Regions from separate parts of the Homo sapiens genome. Here region 2 is linked to region 1. Evidence: fine-mapped expression QTL. A gene starts in region 1. The other region holds a variant in brackets. All regions are shown on one strand. Distances are between the middles of the regions. Region 1 holds the start of ID3 (inhibitor of DNA binding 3). Region 2 has its middle 23 kb from the start of ID3.

Region 1 (2,904 bases):
GAAGGATCTTCTCTTCGGTTATTCAGGAGTTCCTACAGCCATTATTTTGCCTTTCCTGACCAAATAGCTGGCACTTGACGGCTGTAGCATGTAAAGACTGACTTGCCCACTCACAGGTTTTCTTCCTCTTTTCTTACTGAAGAGCCTGTCCTTGAAAAAAACATTCCAGGAAGAAATCTTTCTTGGGCCACAGAGCCCTGTGGTTTGATGGAAAAGAACGAGGCTTCAAGACTGGCTCTGCTATTACTTGTAGTGTGACATTGGGCATGTCTTAAATGCCTTCCTTGGGCCCCTCAGCATCTTTCACCTACATATCCAAATTTCACACAACCTTGGACTTCTACAATTGGAAAGGATTTTAAATAATCACTTAGTACCATCGTCTATTTTACTCACAAGGCAATTAAAGCCAGAGTACCTGGGCTTGTTCAAGATTACATGACAAATTATTGTCAGGGCTAGCATGATGAACCCAGGGCTCTCAATTCCCAGTCAGTGTCCTTTTCAACCGTTTTGCGACTCTCTTTGGCTCTGAGCCCCCCTTGTCCTGTTAATCAGTGCCACACATTATCGAACTCTTGTTTCCTGTGTTAATCTTGTCTCCCCAAATTGTGAGATTCTTGAAAGCAGGAGCCACTGTTTTATGCGGAGGGACTCCATAAATATTCACCAATGATTCATTAGGAAAGCAACTATTGGGGGAATCCCACTTGGTCATTTCCAAAATGGAAAGCAGCATCTTGGAAGTGCAGGTCCCCAAATGTCTAGGGAGGTGACAAGAAGGCAAGCAAAGAATCAAAGAATACTGAGCACAGTGTCCTGTTGCAATACAGGACTTAGTTTGCCGGCCCTCTGGTTCCTTTCCTGGTCTTTCAGATGGAGCTGGAGCTACTTCAGCAGGGCTAAGAATAATCAAGTCCAGGTGGCCTGCCCTTCCATAGCAGAAAGGGACAGACAATAGAGCAATGAAATTACCACTGTTTTCTACACAGAGGTGTGTGGAAAGTGAAGAGAGGGGAAGTTAAGAAATTTGCTGACCCAATTGGGTGGGGGGGGGCTCTTAAAAAGGTTTATGTAGAAATTGTCCCATCTGTGCCTCCATATTTAAAACCTTGTCCAAAATTCTAATTGAACTCACAAAGCACAACTGTGCATATATTTAGTTCGTTATGGAGTTTATGGGGCAGAGGGTCCAGGCTCCTTTTTTCCCCATGCAAAAAGCATGGGCTCAAGCTTTCTTCTTTTCCCCTGTTGCTCAAATAAATAGTGTTCTTTGCTCAAACCCCCTTTCCCTCCTCCTTCTGCAATCTCAGCGCCTAGCGCAAATCTGTTTTCTTCATTGTAACCTCAGCTTCACCGCAATTAATTTTTTTTCCCTCTGGTCACAAGATAATTCCTGACGCCAGTGAGTCTGGAGGTCAGACGAACAGCAAATTGGGGAACAAGGCGGCACTAATTCCTTACAAGTTTCCCTTGAAAAATCTTTCGCTTAAAAAAAACGGGGGGTGGGGGGAGCTTCTTTGCTGTTCAGGGATTTATGACCTCGGAGGAGCTGTGGCTCGAACCAGTGTTGGGCTAAAGGCGGACTGGCAGGGGGCAGGGAAGCTCAAAGATCTGGGGTGCTGCCAGGAAAAAGCAAATTCTGGAAGTTAATGGTTTTGAGTGATTTTTAAATCCTTGCTGGCGGAGAGGCCCGCCTCTCCCCGGTATCAGCGCTTCCTCATTCTTTGAATCCGCGGCTCCGCGGTCTTCGGCGTCAGACCAGCCGGAGGAAGCCTGTTTGCAATTTAAGCGGGCTGTGAACGCCCAGGGCCGGCGGGGGCAGGGCCGAGGCGGGCCATTTTGAATAAAGAGGCGTGCCTTCCAGGCAGGCTCTATAAGTGACCGCCGCGGCGAGCGTGCGCGCGTTGCAGGTCACTGTAGCGGGACTTCTTTTGGTTTTCTTTCTCTTTGGGGCACCTCTGGACTCACTCCCCAGCATGAAGGCGCTGAGCCCGGTGCGCGGCTGCTACGAGGCGGTGTGCTGCCTGTCGGAACGCAGTCTGGCCATCGCCCGGGGCCGAGGGAAGGGCCCGGCAGCTGAGGAGCCGCTGAGCTTGCTGGACGACATGAACCACTGCTACTCCCGCCTGCGGGAACTGGTACCCGGAGTCCCGAGAGGCACTCAGCTTAGCCAGGTGGAAATCCTACAGCGCGTCATCGACTACATTCTCGACCTGCAGGTAGTCCTGGCCGAGCCAGCCCCTGGACCCCCTGATGGCCCCCACCTTCCCATCCAGGTAAGCCTCGAAGTCGGGACAGGGCTGAACACCCAGGCAAGGATGCTGCGGGACCCTCGGAGCTCCCGATTGCCTCGCGTAACTCTTCCCTCTTTTCCTCTAATCAGACAGCCGAGCTCACTCCGGAACTTGTCATCTCCAACGACAAAAGGAGCTTTTGCCACTGACTCGGCCGTGTCCTGACACCTCCAGGTGAGTATCTCCTCTCTTGGAGAGGGAGGTTTAAACGGCAAGTCCTGGAGTTGGCAGACGTTTTGAAAAATTGCCACTCACTCGGTTTAGGGAAACTGAGGCCAGAGAGGGACAAGTGACTTGCCCATGGTTGCATCAAATGAATGGCAGAGTCAGTTTCCATGTGATGTGCATTTAAGCCTTAAATGCGCCTGGGCCCTGCCCTCCCGCAGTGGCCGAGGGTCTGGCAAAGTAGACATGGGTCCGACTAAATACAAGTCTTTCTGTTCCATGTTGTATAGGGAGCTGTCTTCGGCAGCCCCCTCCCAGCTAGTGTCAATTCCAAGTAGGAGGGGTAGCGCAAGCTCCGCCTGTGGTCTTTGGCGCCAACTGGGTGGGGGCAGCGTGGGGCGCGGAGTTATCAGCTGGAGGTACAGACCAAGTTTCCTCCCTG
Region 2 (2,904 bases), 22 kb before region 1:
AAATGTTTGTTGAAAGAACAACTAATAAGTTAGGTCCTCTCAGTACTCCTCTTCAGGCACCAGTTTTTTGTTGTTGTTTTTGAGACAGTCTCTATTACCCGGGCTGGAATGCAGTGGTGCGATCTCAGCTCACTGCTACCTCTGCCTCCCAAATTCAAGCAATTCTCCTGTCTTGGCCTCCCGAGTAGCTGGGGTTACAGGCACATGCTTGTAGCACACCGGCTAATTTTTGTATTTTTATTAGAGACGGGACTTTGCCATGTTAGCCAGGCTGGTCTCAAACTCCTTACCTTGAGTAATCCGCCCACCTCAGCCTCCCAAAGTGCTGCAATTACAGGCGTCAGCCACCACACCAGGCCTATGTACCGGTATTATCTTTTGACAGAGGAAGGTAACTGAGGCTCAGTGAGGTGAGATGATTGCATGTTTAGCTTCAGGCTCAGTTTTCTGTCACTGAGTTGGATTCACTTTGCCTCTGAGCTGTGCCTCCCGGAGTGACAGAAGTAAGGTGGTGATTGCCAGGTGTGAGAATCAGAGTTGTCTGCCCCCCACCCCACACCTGGTACCAAATGATGTAGAAACAGAATCTGGTATAGCAGGAGGCCTGGTTCCTGATTCTGACACTGATTCACTGGGTGGCTGCAAATGAGCCCCCCCTCCTCACTTGGCCTCAGTCTCCCATCTAGAAAATGAAATGAGTAGAATAGTTTGGAGCGTTTTTTTAAACTGGGATTTAATTCCCATATGCATAAGATCAGAGGTTTTTTGAACTTTCTTTTGTCACAGTCTTTTTTTCCCAAATTAAATTTGATATGAAGACTCAATTCATAAACAAGATAAAAAGTGGGGCTGTGGCCGGGCACAGTGGCTCACGCCTGTAATCCCAGCACTTTGGGAGGCCAAGGTGGGCAGATCACAAGGTCAGGAGATCTAGACCATCCTGGCCAACACGGTGAAACCCTGTCTCTATTACAAAAAAAAAAAAAAAAAAAAATAGCCATGCATGGTGGTGGGCACCTGTAGTCCCAGCTACTCAGGAGGCTGAGGCAGGAGAATGGTGTCAACCCGGGAGGCAGAGCTTGCAGTGAGCCAAGATCGTGCTACTGCTCTCTAGCCTGGGTGATAGAGCGAGACTCAGTCTAAAAAAATATAATAATAAGTGGGGCTGTTAGGCAGGTACAGTGGCTTACACCTGTAATTCCAGCATTTTGGGAGGCCCAGGTGGGAAGATCACTGGAGCAAGAGTT[C/T]GAGCCCAGCCTGAGCAATATGAGGAGACCCCGTCCATACAAAAATAAAAATAAAAAATTAGCTGATCATTGTGGCATGTACCTGTAGTCCCAGCTACTCAGGAGGCTGAGGTTGGAGGATTGCTTGATCCCAGGAGGTCGAGGCTGCAATAAACCCAGATCATGCCACTGTACTTCAGCCTGAGTGACAGAGTAAGACCCCATCTCAAAAAAAAAAAAAAAAAAAAAAAAAAAAGCTGCTTTGGAGAGTGAAGGGAGTGGCATTAGAATTGAGCCTGCTGCCGGGTATGGTGGCTCACGCCTGTAATCCCAGCACTTTGGGAGGCCGAGGTGGGTGGATCACAAGGTCAGGAGATCGAGACCATCCTGGCTAACATGGTGAAACCCCGTCTCTACTAAAAAATACAAAAAATTAGCCGGGCGTGGTGGCACGCGCCTGTAGTTCCAGCTACTTGGGAGGCTGAGGCAGGAGAATGGCATGAACCCGGGAGGCAGAGCTTGCAGTGAGCTGAGATCACGCCACTGCAATCCAGCCTGGGCGACAGAGACTCCATCTCAAAAAAAAAAAAAAAAAAAAAAGAATTGAGCCTTCTTAGGGTGCCCCTTGCTTCCACCACGCGCCACCTCCTTACCTTCAGGGGTCCCTGGGGCACTAATACCCCAGGGCTTAGAGGAACCCAGTTTGAAAACCACTGGACAAGAGTCACTCTTCACAGTCCCTCCCAAGGTGTGGGAGCCCTGGGGAGGAATGAAGGGCCTCTGCTGTCCCAACTTGCAGATGAGCGTTGCTTTCTGAGCTGCAGCCCAGCTGCCTCCCGAGGGTCATGAGAAAGAAGGCAAGGGCAGGCTCAGGGCGCAGGAAGTGGAGCCGGCCAGCTGGGAGGCAGTAACAGGCGCTGGTACTGTGGCCTCCTGGATGGGCCGGTGACATCACAACCCCAGGAAGCAGCTGCCCAAGAGGCCTGCGCTGTCCCTCATTCCTCCTCTGGGAAAATCAGTCCCCAGCTGTTGCCGTCCTCTGTGTACTGGCTTACTCTTCCTGGATTGTCCCCTCCTGAACCAGCATCTTCAGCAGTAGCATCTTCAGAGAGAAGCCTCCCCTATGTGCTGGAACTGTGCTACCCTCTGTGGCACAGCTCGTAACAGCATGCTTTTAAAATTATCGTTTAATTTAATCATCACATCAACATCAAGTAGGGACCAGTACCATTCCCATTTTGCAAACTATGAGAGGCTCAGAAGTGCAAGACAGATCACACAGTTTCACCCAGCTGGTAAACACCAGAGCCAGGCTTTGAACCTTGTCCTGTCTGACTCCAATATTCATGAGTTTTCTTGAGTTACCACATGGTCAGATTCAAAGCAAAAACACGAGGTGGAGGTTGCTTCTTATGTGGCAATGTGAAGCTGTCAATTTCAAACACAGTTTCTTTGTTAATGGCGTTCCTGGCCTATTATCATCCAAGCGGAGTCTTAGGATGCGATAAAGGGCTTAGCACACTGTCTGGCACTCTACAAATGCAGCTTTACTCTGGCTCTCCCCTTTACAAAGGAAGAAACTGAGGCTCAGGGGAGCAAAGTCAAGACCATAGGACAGGCAGGTGCCAACCCCAGGTCTGTCAGGCCCCAGAGTGGAAGCTGTTTCCCCAAAACCCTG

Evidence for each region. PIP is the estimated chance that this variant, and not a neighbour inherited with it, causes the effect.
Region 2: its variant is fine-mapped to the expression of ID3 in neutrophils (CEDAR, PIP 0.91).

The regions. Positions count from the first base shown.
Region 1 is chr1:23,558,502-23,561,405 of GRCh38, reverse strand. ID3 (inhibitor of DNA binding 3) reads left to right here and starts at 1,905. Exons shown (of 3, transcript NM_002167.5): 1 at 1,905-2,279; 2 at 2,387-2,471. The coding sequence starts at 1,980. The coding sequence ends at 2,446. All of the region lies in intron 2 of LOC124903876 (a long non-coding RNA gene), which reads right to left. RefSeq lists silencers at 1,592-1,838, 1,706-1,965.
Region 2 is chr1:23,580,654-23,583,557 of GRCh38, reverse strand. No RefSeq gene overlaps it. Among named protein-coding and RNA genes, the nearest start is that of ID3, 23 kb to the right of the region's middle. The variant C/T (reference allele first, on the strand shown) is at 1,248.